Homo sapiens: one gene and its partner. The protein of the gene in region 1 purifies or fractionates together with the protein of each later gene. This does not show direct contact. Each region holds a gene or a part of one and is shown in the gene's direction. Other genes may lie near its edges.

Region 1 (7,023 bases):
CACTATATAGAAAATCAGATAGAGACTCCATGCAAGTGGCTGCTAAAGAAAATGTAGATGGTAAAGTCCCAGGATAAGGATGGAGAGCATTTGTTCGCATTGTATAAAGCTAATAACTATATGGATGCTACCCACAAATAGGTTATATGCAGAGGAACCCCCAGATGCCCCAGTACAGTTCCCCCCAGCCCGGCTCAGCCTTATCTCCGCGTCAGCCTTCCGGAGGACAGATACACACAGGCATGGGCTCCTACCAGCAGAACTCCATGGGGAGCTATGGTCCCCAGGGGGGTCAGTATGGCCCACAAGGTCAGTATACTACCCAGTTAGGAGTAGATACGGGTGAGAGGAGAAAACAGTTCCTTGTCTGATATGTTGCCATCTAGCTTGTAACCTTGTGAGAGAAGGGCTGTCCTTTGCCTTTAATCCACCCAGCCCAGGCCCTGAAGTAGGGCAAGGCAAGATTCCATTTGTCTCCACTTATTCTGTCACCATGAGAAAGTCTTTCAATTTCACTGAGCCTCTGTTTCATTTATAAAAATGGAGATTAGGTGTTTACTCCACCATTGAGCACAGACAATTTATACATGGTAGCTCTTGGTTATTATTTTTTTATTAATTATTTTTAGTGAATAAGTCATAATGGAATAGATCTTTGCTCAAAATTGCAGCCCTAGGCTGATCAAAAGTTGAGAATCTTACACAGAGCATGGAAATAGAAAGGAAGTTATCTTCTTCTGGAAGTTGAAATGCCTGTGTGGCAGCAAAGCCAGCCTTGCTCTGACCTGCCTTTACATGCTTCTGGAATCCCCCCCTTTTTCTCATGGCGATAAAGGCTACCATGAAGTTGATCTCTTTCCTAACCAAAATATTGAATGACATTGTTTGGTGTTCTAGAGTTGAGAGATATTAGTGAGTTGCTAGTGAGTGACTAACCAAGTCTTGTCTTCCTCCCCTCCCAGGTGGCTACCCCAGGCAGCCAAACTATAATGCCTTGCCCAATGCCAACTACCCCAGTGCAGGCATGGCTGGAGGCATAAACCCCATGGGTGCCGGAGGTCAAATGCATGGACAGCCTGGCATCCCACCTTATGGCACACTCCCTCCAGGGAGGATGAGTCACGCCTCCATGGGCAACCGGCCTTATGGCCCTAACATGGCCAATATGCCACCTCAGGTTGGGTCAGGGATGTGTCCCCCACCAGGGGGCATGAACCGGAAAACCCAAGAAACTGCTGTCGCCATGCATGTTGCTGCCAACTCTATCCAAAACAGGTAAGGCCTGGGAAGCAGAGAGGGTGTCAGTGCAAGAAAATGTATTATAGACCCACTCAGATTATTGAGATGCTTCTGGACCTAAACCAGGGGGGGAAAATGGGTGTGTGTGTATGAAGTGTTAATTCTTACATACCTTAGATGGGTCTGAAATTTCACGTGACTAAACATCATATGTAATGAGCTTTATAAAAGACAGGTTTTTGGCCGGGCGTGGCGGCTCATGCCTGTAATCCTAGCACTTTGGGAGGCCAAGGCGGGCAGATCATGAGGTCAGAAATCAAGACCAGCCTGATCAACATGGTGAAACCCCGTCTGTACTAAAAATACAAAAATTAGCTGGGTGTGGTGGCGCACGCCTGTAATCCCGGCTATCGGGAGGCTGAGGCAGGAGAATCACTTGAACCCAGGAGGAAGAGGTTGCAGTGAGCCAAGACTGCGCCACCACACTCCAGCCTGGGCGACAGAGCGAGACTGTCGAAAAAAGGGGTTTTGTGGGGTGTTTTATTTTGGGGTCTTTTGAGACAGGACCCTGCTCTGTTCCCCAGGCTGAATTGCAGTGGCATGACCACAGTTCACTGCAGCCTCGACCTCCCAGGCTCAAGTGATCCTCCCACCTCAGCCTTCTGAGTAGTTGGGACTACAGGCACACACCACCACACCCAGCTAATTTTTTTTATTTTTTATATTTATTTATTTATTTAGAGACTGTCTCACTCTGTTGCCCAAGCTGGAGTGTAATGGCACACTTTCAGCTCACTGCCACCTCTGCTTTCCAGGTTCAACCAATTGTCCTGCCTCAGCCTCCCAAGTAGCTGGTGTTACAGGCACCCGCCACCATGCCCTGCTAATTTTTATATTTTTAGACTGGGTTTCACCATGTTAGCCAGGCTGGTCTCAAAATCCTGACCTCCAGTGAGCTGCCTGCCTTGGCCTCTGAAAGTGCTGGGATTACAGGCATGATCCACCATGCCCGGCCTTTTTTTTTTTTTTTTAAATAGAGATGGGGTCTCAGTGTGTTGCCAGGGCTAAAGACTGCTTATTTTGATGTGCAAAATAAGTGTTCAGAGTAGGTGGTTTAACTTCTATCAGTCAACTTTTTGGTTTCCAAAAGGATTCTTAATGATACATATGTCTTGGATCTTTGGTGTTAGAAATAGCAAATGGTAAGCTTGTGGTTTGCCATTTCTCCTACTGTTTTATGTGGTCCTACGTGTTGACTCTGGTGCTAGAGTACAGAAGGCTCATGTGATTAGGTTTAACAACTTCTTTAGCCACTAAATCTTACTGAGTTGTTGTTGATGAACCAAGGTAGAATAGGGCGATTGACTATAAAGAGGTGGATTTGGTAGAACTTCAGAATGATGGAAGTGCAAAGTTTGCATTGGGCCCCTCAAGAAATAATGCAAAGCCACCTCTGGGTGCTATGCTGAGGGTTCCAGTCTGGTTGGGATTTAGCATGACAAAAAGTGGTACAGTTCAGCATTTCATCTATGCCTTTTGCCACAGACAGGGCCCTTAAATGGAAATACAACTTGACTTTGGAGGTGGCTTTGAGGAAGGCAGTACTTAAAGGACACAGCAGGGCTCTGCTTCAAAGAATTACACCCTTTGAAATTGAGCTATTGTGGCCGGGTGCGGTGGCTCACTCCTGTAATCCTAGCACTTTGGGAGGCTGAGGCAGGTGGATCACCTGAGGTCAGAAGTTCAAGACCAGCCTGCCCAGCATGGCAAAACCCCATCTCTACTAAAAATACAAAAAAATAGCCAGGCATGGTGGTGGGCGCCTGTAATCCCAGCTACTCACGAGGCTGAGGCAGAATGGCTTGAACCTGGGAGGCGGAGGTTGCAGTGAGCCGAGATCATGCCATTGCACTCCAGCCTGGGAGATGAGTGAAACTCCATCTCAAAAAAAAATTGGCCGGGCATGGTGGCTCACCCCTGTAATCCCAGCATTTTGGGAGGCTGAGGCAGGCGGATAACGAGGTCAGGACATCGAGACCATCCTGGCTAATACGGTGAAACCCTGTCTCTACTAATAAAGTACAAAAAATTAGCCGGGCGTGGTGGCAGGTGCCTGTAGTCCCAGCTACTTGGGAGGCTGAGGCAGGAGAATGGCGTGAACCCGGGAGGCGGAGCTTGCAGTGAGCTGAGATCGCGCCACTGCTCTCCAGCCTGGGCAACAGAGCGAGACTCCATCTCAAAAAAAAAAAAAATTGAACTATTGTTTGCTATCTAGAGCTTGAACTCTCTTAGTATCTTTCGTGGGAGGTAGAAGATAAGAAAATCTGGGTGTTGGCCGGGCTCGGTGGCTCATGCCTGTAATTCCAGCATTTTGGGAAGCCGAGGCAGGTGGATCACCTGAAGTCAGGAGTTCGAGACCAGCCTGACCAACATGGAGAAAGCCCATCTCTACTAAAAATACAACATTAGCCGGGTGTGGTGGTACATGCCTGTAATCCCAGCTATTTGGGAGGCTGAGAAAGGAGAATTGCTTGAACCTGGGAGGCTGAGATTGCAGTGAGCCGAGATTTCACCATTGCACTCCAGCCTGGGCAACAAGAGTGAAACTCTGTCTCAAAAAAAAAAAAAAGAAAATCTGGGTGTTAGCTGGACATGGTGGTGCATGCCTCATAGTCTTAGGCACTCAGGAGGCTGAGGAAGGCAGATTGTTTGAGCTCAGGAGATTAAGGCTGCAGTAAGCTATGATCACACCACTGCATTCCAGCCAGGGTGCCAGAGCAATACCCTGTCTCAAGAAAATAAATTAAAGAAAAATAATATCTGGATGTTGCATAGTTCTAGTTTTGGGGACCCATAAATGTTTTCCTTTTAATCCTTACTAGATGATCACACAGCACTATTTGGCTCCAGTTCAAATCTAAAAGCTCAGAGTCTAACCTTTGTCTCTCTCACTTTCCATCTTCTTCCTTAGGCCGCCAGGCTACCCCAATATGAATCAAGGGGGCATGATGGGAACTGGACCTCCTTATGGACAAGGGATTAATAGTATGGCTGGCATGATCAACCCTCAGGGACCCCCATATTCCATGGGTGGAACCATGGCCAACAATTCTGCAGGTAAGTGCTAGTCATTCTCACTAGGGATTTCTTCAAGAGTCACATCACAGCTAAACTTACTGGACTTGAGAATTTTTTTCTCTTTTACAGGGATGGCAGCCAGCCCAGAGATGATGGGCCTTGGGGATGTAAAGTTAACTCCAGCCACCAAAATGAACAACAAGGCAGATGGGACACCCAAGACAGAATCCAAATCCAAGGTAGTGATTTTTGTCTTGACTCCTTTCAACTTTGTGTCCTATCTTTTTCAGTGATAGGAAGGAAAAAGAAAAGAGAGTGACAAGATCCCAGCCTTTTATGACACCGGACTAGATAGTCTCTGAAAAAGCTGCTGTTGCCTCCTCTTATCATGAAAGGTCCCAGAATAATAGCTCAGTGAGTTGGGTCTGGGTTGGTCTAAGGGATCCTGGTAAATAACATAATATTCTCACAGCTGTTTGTTATGGGGGAAATGCCAGACACTGCAGCATCAAACTCTCTGTACTGTTTGGCTGGTGCCCTCTGTGAAACCGTGCCTCCTATACTCAAGCATTGATAGATGGGGTGTGCCATGGGCAACTAGTTGCTCTTCTCTTCCTGAACCTTACTCATAGCAGCAGGAATGGTACCCTGTGTTCTGTAAAGAAGGAGATAAGGCAGATGAGGCTTGAGTCCTTGGCTTCCCTTAGGTTGGTCCTGGGTGTACTGTTAGGCTGTGCGGTAGTAAAGGGTCCTACTCAGCATTTGGGTCATTTGTAATATTTCTGTCCTTGGCCATACCTCACTTTCCCTATCTGTATACATAGGGAAAATAAAAATCATAGCTGTTAATTCCTGTGAGTCTTCACCTCTGGCTCCCAGCCCTTTTGACCACGTTCCTGTCTTGTACAGGATAATATCCAAAGCCCTTCAACCAGGTGGGAAACCTTTCCTTTGTTTAGAAGAGGCAAAGAGTTTCTTTTCATTTTAGTCCATCCCATTGCCTCAAGATCATGTTGTGAGTTTTTCGATTTCTCTAAAACATAGTACCTAAGTATGTTCAGGCTCCTGGGTAGTAGTGTGGGAGCAGTAGTGGCTTTGATGTCAGGTGGACAAGGATTTGATACTCAGCCTGCCACTTAAAAGCTGTGAGATCTTAGGCTTTGCCTCCTGGTGCCTGCTTCCTTATCTTTACAAATGGGGATAATTTTATAATACCTAATATATAAAGGCATCTAGCACAGCACCCAGTACATAACATATATTTAGTGTTAGCTTCCTTCCTTTATAGGAAAAAAAAATTTGGTTCTCTTTTGGCCCTTCAACCTTATGAAGGTAGGACAGGTGTTAGTAACCACCCCAGAGTAAGAAGCTTTAACACTGCTCCAGTCAAGAGACTTCTGAGACCCTTAGCACAGGCTTTGAATCTGACCCATTCCTATGAATTTTGACCTGAACCTTCCAGAAATCCAGTTCTTCTACTACAACCAATGAGAAGATCACCAAGTTGTATGAGCTGGGTGGTGAGCCTGAGAGGAAGATGTGGGTGGACCGTTATCTGGCCTTCACTGAGGAGAAGGCCATGGGCATGACAAATCTGCCTGCTGTGGGTAGGAAACCTCTGGACCTCTATCGCCTCTATGTGTCTGTGAAGGAGATTGGTGGATTGACTCAGGTGAGTGGGCGCCTGACACTTGACTGCCCCTGTGGTTTCCACAAACCCCTTTCTAGGTACTCACTGGCTTCATGTGGTACCATGCATCCCACAGGGACATCATCCCCTCTCCCGCTTTCTGAGTCTAATATTGATAGACCGGGGAGCACAGGTTTCCCAGAAGATAAGGCAGGAAGCAGAGACCTCCCTGGTAGTATGAGGTATTAGCAGTAAGTTTACCGTGTATCTATGGTCCCACTGAGGTGTAAAGCTAGGGAAAGTCTGTGGGCATTCTGATTCCATGGGAGGCAATTTGGCATAGTAGCAAAGACAGGATTTGGAGAGATGGACCTGGTTTTGAATCCCTTCTTGGCCACTTATAACATATATGACCTTAAGGTGTGTAACCACTCTGAACCTTAATTTCATTATTTGTAAAATACAAACAGTATGTAACAGTATATAACCCACTAGACTGTCAAAAGTTAGAAATAACTTTGGCTTTCAGCAAGGTTTCTGCCACATAAATCGGCCTGCAAGATGGTACAGAGGCAGCCAGAGTAGAAGTAGATCTTCCCATTCCTGGAAGCTTCCCAGTAGAGATAGGATTTCAGGAACTGCTTAGTAGAAATAGTTTATAATAAAGGAAGAAGTAGTAGGAAATTATGTGTTTAGTTATTCTGTATGGGAAACTTAAATGAAAACCTGAATTGGACACCACCCAGAGCTTGTGCCTACTCTGATACCTTACAATTTTGTAGACTCAGCCCAGGAAGCAAACAGGTGAGGCAGCACAGACAGACAGCAGACTGTGCCTTGCAGACTTCCCTCCTGTGTATGTTCTGTAGTCACCAGACCAGAAGCCTGCTGTTGGATCAGTTTGTGGCTGAGCTCGGGGAGGTGTGGCAGGGAGGGATTTATTCCAAACCTTCTAAATCAGAAGAGGAAAACAGCTGTCACCAGCAGAAAAGAAAGTGGTTGGAATGAAGCCAGCCAACAGTCAGTTATGAATTCCTTCTCCCTTCAGGCTTTATTCCCCTCCCCCACAAAGGAAA
Region 2 (7,527 bases), on another chromosome or scaffold:
TTAGGCGTGGTGGCTCACGCCTGTAATCCCAGCACTTTGGGAGCCCGAGATGGGCAGATCACTTGAGGTCAGGAGTTTGAGACCAGCCTGGCCAACATGGTGAAACCCCGTTTCTACTAAAAATACAAAAATTAGCCAGGCATTGGGCTCAGTGGTTCACGCCTTTAATCCCACACTTTGGGAGGATGAGGCGGGCGGATCACTTGAAGTCAGGAGTTCGGGACCATCTGGTGAAACCCTGTCTCTACTAAAAATACAAAAATTAGTCAGGCATGATGGTGGGTGCCTGTAATCCCAGCTACCAGGGGGCCTGAGGCATGAGAATCGCTTGAACCTGGGAGGAGGAGGTTGCATTGAGCTGAGATCAGGTCACTGCACTCCAGCCTGGGTGACAGACCGAGACTTCGTCTCAAAAAAAAAAAAAAAAATTGTCCAGGCGCAGTGGCTCACGCCTGTAATCCTAGCACTTTGGAGGGCTGAGGCAGGTGGATCACGAGGTCAAGAGATCAATACCATCCTAGCCAACATGATGAAACCTCATCTCTACTAAAAATACAAAAAAAAAAAAATTAGCTGGACTTGGTGGCACACGCCTGTAGTCCCAGCTACTTGGGAGGCTGAGGCAGGAGAATTGCTTGAACCCAGGAGGCAGAGGTTGCAGTGAGCCAAGGCCACTGCACTCCAGCCTGGCAACAGAGAAAGACTCCATCCCAAAAGAGAAAGAGAGAGAGAGAGAGAGACGGAGTCTTGCTCTTTCGCCCAGGATGGGGTGCAGTGGTGCAATCTTGGCTCACTGCAGCCTCGACCTCCTGGGCTCAAGCGATCCTCCCGCCTGGGTCTCCTGTGTAGCTGGGACTACAGGCATGCGCCACCATGCCCGGTTAATTTTTGTATTTTTTTGTAGAGACAGGGTTTCGCCATGTTGCCCAGGCTAAAAATGCATAGAATCTTATGGGACCTCCATTGTCTGTGCGGTCCACCTGTTGACCAAATGTTGTTATGCAGTGCATGACTGTACTGCCTCCTCAGTGAAGCCTCCAGAATCACTTCTCCTTTATAAACGAACTCCTTCCTTTGACTTAAGGCCATTTGCATGAGTTCCAGGGTAGCTCTTTTAACGGCTTTTCTGTGTGTATCTGCCTTAGCCTGAGAGCCCTTTGAAGACAGGGCTTACATATTTCTACCTCAGTGACTGCTAGTGGACTTCAACATCATCGAAGTACAGAACTTCATATCAAAATGTGCCTTGAAGGCCCATTTTACAGATAGGGAGACTGACTTCCATTTCCATTTCTCTCCCTGATGCCCCATCCATGCAAGGCGCTGGCCTGGCTAGTCAGCGAATCAAGGTCCGCAAGAGCCAGTGTCTGGCGCCCCGGGAGGGACTCCATTTCCCGAAACGCACAGCGCGCGCCCGATGCGTGCTGGGGAATGTAGTCCTGACCCGGTGCCCCGCCCCCGCCCCACCCCCGAAGTTTCCCAGCACCAGTCGCGATCCTCAGCAGCCCAGACTTTCGTCTCCTGTTGTCACTCACTACTTCCTGTGACTCCAAGACTGCCTTCCCTTACTCTACCCCTTCCTTCAGCCCCCCAGCTCTGATTCTTTCCCGAGACTCAGTGGACGCAGGGGTCCTGCCCCAGCCCCGACCCCAGTCCTCCCCCTGGGTGTACTCGAACCGGTGATCTAAGCCCTGAGCCCAGGTCCCTGAAACCTCAGCCCCAGGCCTCCTCTAAACCCTAGCGCCTGCTGTTTCTCACAACTCACCCGCTCACTCGTTACCTGACACCGGAGCCCTGCCCTTCCCCGCCAAGGCCGCTCCCCTCCCGGACCCGGGGGTGGCGGAAACCCAGACCCCCAGCTCCCAATCCCTCTGACTCCTGCGCCCCTCAGCGACCCGGCGTCCGGTCCCTCAGCCCCTTACCCAGACTTCCCTCCCTCCGGCTCATGCTGGCCCCTGGCTGATCCCGGCTCCCTTCACGCCCCCCTTTCGAGGGGGGAGAAAGGGGAAAGGGCTGGGGGCGTGGCCCGGGCGCAGCCAATCAGAGCCCAGACCCCAAACATTTCATCCTACCCCCCCTTTTGAGACAGGATTCCTTGGCCCTGAGCTCAGCTCCTCGTCCGTGGGGCCTAGTGGGGGAAGGGGCCCGAGGGGGAAGGCAAGTTGTCTGCCGGGTGGACAGGACCTCGGGGCTGGGGGTGTCAGGGCCTGGGAGGCAGCCCAATGTTCTGCCGCGGGCTCAGGCTTGGACCTGAGGCAGCGGCTGCTTTGGGTGTAAAGCTGAGGAGACAGGAGAGGGAACTGCCGGACTGGCAGGACAGGAATGCGCAGGCCCTCTCTCTAGTCTGGGGCGCGGCTTGCGAGGGAGGCTACGATGGGGGCCGTCAGGCTTGGGGCATGTTTGTCCAGACATACATCTCCTGGCCTATCTTAGATGGCTTCCAATCTCATTGTCACACCCACCAGGAGGGAGACAGATACACTGCTCTCCTCTTCTTAGCAGGCCTAGTAACAATCACACCCCGCCCCCCACCCCCAGGAGAACAAGCTACAGAGACCTGGACAGGAAGTCACACCCATACGTCAACCCCATTAACCTGGTGTAGACGGAAAGGAAGGCACATAGGGATGATCCATACTTGGTTTCTGGCCCCCGCGAGGGGCTCGCGGTCTGTCGAGGAAGCCCATAGACAACAGAAGCTAATGGGGTTTGTGAATGAAGACGAGGAGGCCCGTGTGTGTGTGCGCTTGCGTGTGTCTGCGTGTGTGCGTGCATGCGGACGTGTGTGCGTGTGAGCATGCGTGTGTGCGAGTGGATTTGTGTGCGTGTGAGTGTGCAGGTGTGCGCGTGTGTGCATGTGCGCGTGCATGTGTGTGCGTGTGTTCGTGTGAGTGGGTGTGTGTATTGCCGTGAGCAATTGCTGGAATAAAAGAAGAAAGAGTTTAACTGGAGAGGGCACAGCAGATAGAATTGAGCCAGACAATTGGTAGGGCCCACAATCACATGTGTATTAACTGTAAATATTTATTGGGCATTTACCATGTGCTGGGCACTGTTCTAAGAGCCATATGCACATTAACTAACTCCTGTGTTATAGATGCGGAATAGAGAGAAGTGACTTGTCCAGGGTAACACAGTTAGGTGTGGCACAACTGGGATTTTACCTAAGCAGCTTGGCTCAAAAAAATGCTGTCTTAACCATGCTCCTAACCCCTTATACCCTTAACCTCTGGACATGGTCACGCCCAAATTCACAGACACAACAGCCACACCTTGAAACACACACACACACACAACAGCAGCACAAATTTTGACATGGTCTTATCTGCTGACAAGCCAGCCTCAAATAAAGTCAACAAAGACACACTCATTTTATTTAAGTAATGTACATTTTATTTAAGTCATGTGATGGATTTTCACAGAATACATATGCCCAGGGAACCAGCACCAGATTACACAACAGAACTGGATCAGCTCCCAGAAGCTCTCCCCTCGTCCCCTCCCAACCCTAAGGGCGATCACTATCTTGACTTTGGTGCACTATAAATTAGTTTTGTCTGGTTCTGAACGTAATACACCTGGAACCATCTAGTATGTACTGTTGCATTTGGCTTCTGTCACTCAAGATTTCATCATGCGACTTGTCTATGTTGCTGTGTGTAGCCGGGCATGTCAATCCCGTTGCTGTGTCTATGTGCATGGTAGTGAGTAGGGCATCATTCATTTTCCATTCTGTTGATGGGTTATTTCCAGTTTGGGGCTGTTATGAAAGGGCTCTGAACATTCCCATGCACCCTCTTGATGCTCACACCTACACATTTCTGCTGGGTGTTGACAGCCTAGGAGTGGAACTGCTGGATCACAGAGGTGGCATATGTTCGGCTTCATTAGAAAACTGCCAGTTTTCCAAAATGTCTCTACCAATTTACACTCCCCCAGAAATACAAGAGAGGTCCAGTCGCTCTACTTTCTCGCCTCCACACGGTGCGGTCTTTTTCACTTTAGCCATTCTGGTGGTGGAGACCCACTCGTATTCGCAGCGCCTGGAGCGTAATTGGCACTCAGTTAACAAGACTGTTGAATGAATGGATGACTGAGTAAGTTGGGCGGTGTAGACCAACAGCCTGGCGAGGGCGGACACACGCACGCACTCCACACACAGCGTTTCGCGGACACCCACCGCGGCTCACGCAGCGCAGGACACAGACCCTGTCGCGCACCCCGCGCCCACGTGGTCTGAACACACGGCCTCGGCCCTGCCTCGCGCGTCCGGTCGCAACTCCCGCTCTCCGTCCCCAACTCGCGCGTCCGTCCCCAACTCCCGCTCTCGGCGGCGGGCAGGGGGCGCTGAGCGTCCAGGCGCTCCAAGGGGGCGGGCCCGGGTCGGGGCGGGGCCGGCCGGGCTTCCAGGCCTGGGCTCTGGCCGCCCGCGCCACCGGGCCGCTCCGGGGACAGGCCGGGGCGGGGCGCGGCGGCAGGAAACGGGGCGGGGACTTGCGGAGGCGTTGGGGACGAGAGAGGGCGCGGCCAACTCCAGGGGGGACGGCAGGCCGAGAGCGCGGCGCCCGGGCCTGGCGCGGAGCCTGAGCCCGCCGGACGGGAGGCGGCCCCGCCGCGGGCTCGGCCCCGGCCCCAGCCCCGCCAGCATGGCCGGCCGGACTGTACGGGCCGAGACCCGGAGCCGGGCCAAGGATGACATCAAGAAGGTGATGGCGACCATCGAGAAGGTCCGGAGATGGTGAGCGCTGCTCGGGGGCCAGGGACGGGACACAGCGGGACCACCAGCACCAAAGGCGTCTACGCTGCCCTCGCCAGCTCTGGGCCCCGGGTGTTCGGTGTATCTCCACCCACTAGCTTTGCCCTGGATCCACAGGGCTCTGTCCCCGTTCGCCTGGCTACTCCTGGGGGTCTACAAAGCGTGATCCCCAGCCGTGTCCTCCCAGAGCGGGAGCCCCCTCTTGTGCCCCGCCCCCTAAAGCTTTGACACCCCTCCTGCAGGTGCGCCCCAGGATCTGCAGGGCTCTGATCCCGGGCCAGGCCCATAGCCACGCCCCCCATGTGTGCCCCAGGGGTCCGCAGAGCCAGGGCCCCAAATCATATCCTCTCTCTAGAGGCACCCACCGCCTATGCCCTGGGGTTTGCAGGACTCTCTTCCTCCATGTAACTATGCCCCATTAGCAAAACTGTTGCTATCCTCCTGTGCCTCCTCAACCTCTGCAGGTACCCCCAGATGTGTCCAGCTCCTAGGGGGGTGGGTCTCCCCTCAGGCCTCTCTGACCCAGCCCCCCACCCTCCCACAGGGAGAAGCGATGGGTGACTGTGGGCGACACTTCCCTTCGTATCTTCAAGTGGGTGCCAGTGGTGGATCCCCAGGAGGAGGTGAGCAACCCCCATTCCCACAAGGCCCTGCATCTGTGCAACCTCAGGCAAGTTCCTCCCCACGCTGACCTCTACCTCCAGCTCCCCGAGACCTCAGATGCAGCAGGACAGACGGGAACCATCATTAGCAGCTCCTCCCCTTTTGCCCTCTTTTCTGCTCCACACCCCCTGAGTTTGAGCCCTTTTGCTTCTCAGTGCCTCAGTTTCCTTAGGTGTATGGTGGGGCTTTCCAAGAGCTCTGACCCTAATCCTCTAACCCCCAGGAGCGAAGGCGGGCAGGTGGCGGGGCAGAGAGATCCCGTGGCCGGGAACGTCGGGGCAGGGGCGCCAGTCCCCGAGGGGGTGGCCCTCTCATCCTGCTGGATCTTAATGGTAGGTAGGGATCCTGAAACGCGGGGGGCTGTGGGGACTGAAGGAGTGTACTAGGGATCTCAGGCCAACCATCTCGGCTCTTGCTCCCGCAGATGAGAACAGCAACCAGAGTTTCCATTCGGAAGGTTCCCTGCAAAAGGGCACAGAGCCCAGTCCTGGGGGCACCCCCCAGCCCAGCCGCCCTGTGTCACCTGCCGGACCCCCAGAAGGGGTCCCTGAGGAGGCTCAGCCCCCACGGCTGGGCCAAGAGAGAGGTAGGACCAGGTACCTCCCAGGAGCTCTCTCCTCTAAGTCCTGTCTTCTCCAGAGTCTAACCTACCAGCTCATCCCTATACCTGCTCCCCGTCTTGTGCACCCTCCTCAAGGCGCCTTCCGACTCCTGCAGAATCTCCCTGTAGCTACAGTCTCATTCCTCTGGTCTCTTAGAATCTATACAGACATATCACTGTCTGAGATTTTCATGTAAATTAATTTTTTACTAGTTTATCTTTCTCCTCACTCTCATGTCAGTTTCCTGAATGTTGGGCCCATATTGATCCTTTTTTTTTTTTTTTTTTTTTTTTTTTTTTGAGAAAGGGTCTCGCTCTGTCACCCAGGCTGGAGTAGTATAGTGGTGTGATCATAGCTCACTGCAGCCTTGAACTTCCTGGGCTCAAGCGATCCTCCCGCCTCAGCCTCCCAAGTAGCTGGGACCACAGGCATATGCCACCACACCTGGCTAATTTTTGTATTTTTTGTAGAGATAAGGTTTCACCATGTTGCCCAGGCTGGTCTCAAACTCACTTGCTCAAGCAGTCCTCCACCTTCAGCCTCCCAAAGTGCTGGGATTACGGGTGTGAGCCATCACACCCACACCCGGCCCTCCCCCCCCTTTTTTTTAGAGACAAGGTCTCTGTCACCCACGCTGGAGTACTCTGGTGCAATCATAGCTCACTGCAGCCTCAAACTCCTGGGCTCAAGGGATCCTCTGGCCCCAGCCTCCCAAATAGCTGGGACTCAGGTGTGTGCCACCATGCCCAGCCAATTCTTAAATTTTTTGTAGAGGTAGGGTCTCGCTATGTTGCCAAGGTTGGTTTTGAACTCGTGGCCTGAAATGATCCTCCTGTCTCAGCCTCCCAAGGTGCTGGGATTATAGGCGTGAGTCACTGTGCCTGGCCCTATGTGATCTTGTTCACTACTGTATCCTCAGAATAATATGGGACACATAGTAGGTGCTCAGTAAATATCTGTTGAGTGAATAAATAATAGTGATAGTCATAGGGGTGATTAACAATAATAGGAATAACAACAGCTAGTATTTATTGAGCTCTTACTGTGTGCTAGGTGCCCTGGTAAACACTTTACGTGGTTGGGTTTTTTTCTTTTCTCTTTTTCTTTTCTTTGAGAGAGTTTCGCTCTTGCCAAGGCTGGAGTGCGACGGCACAATCTTGGCTCACTGCAACCTTCACCTCCTGGGTTCAGGCAATTCTCCTGCCTCAGCCTCCTGGGTAGCTGGGAATATAGGCATGAACCACCATGCTCGGCTGGTTTTGTATTTTTAGTAGAGTTGGGGTTTCGCCATGTTGGCCAGGCTGGTCTCAAACGCCTGACCTCAGGTGATCTGCCCGCCTTGGCCTCCCAAAGTGCTGGGATTACGAGCCACCACGCCCAGCCTTTTTTTTTTTTTTTTTTGAGATGAAGTCTTGCTCTGTTGCCCAGGCTGGAGAGCAGTGGTACGATCTTGGCTCACTGCAAACTCTGCCTCCCAGGTTCAAGCGATTCTTCTGCCTCAGCCTC

What was found.
Region 2: the proteins of ARID1A (region 1) and BCL7C purify together in Homo sapiens (affinity purification with mass spectrometry; 6 studies listed by BioGRID and IntAct, with this or other methods). This does not show direct contact.

The regions. Positions count from the first base shown.
Region 1 is NC_000001.11:26,762,011-26,769,033, forward strand, and holds part of ARID1A (AT-rich interactive domain-containing protein 1A), read left to right. Parts: intron 1-141; coding exon 142-309; intron 310-962; coding exon 963-1,275; intron 1,276-4,210; coding exon 4,211-4,356; intron 4,357-4,446; coding exon 4,447-4,556; intron 4,557-5,779; coding exon 5,780-5,989; intron 5,990-7,023. UniProt on the Homo sapiens protein: Involved in transcriptional activation and repression of select genes by chromatin remodeling (alteration of DNA-nucleosome topology).
Region 2 is NC_000016.10:30,891,064-30,898,590, reverse strand, and holds the start of BCL7C (B-cell CLL/lymphoma 7 protein family member C), read left to right. Parts: upstream 1-4,513; 5' UTR 4,514-4,646; coding exon 4,647-4,738; intron 4,739-5,300; coding exon 5,301-5,379; intron 5,380-5,642; coding exon 5,643-5,751; intron 5,752-5,843; coding exon 5,844-6,005; coding exon of another isoform or gene 6,006-6,015; intron 6,016-7,527. Other genes in the region: CTF1 (cardiotrophin-1), read right to left, coding at 2,597-2,687. UniProt on the Homo sapiens protein: May play an anti-apoptotic role.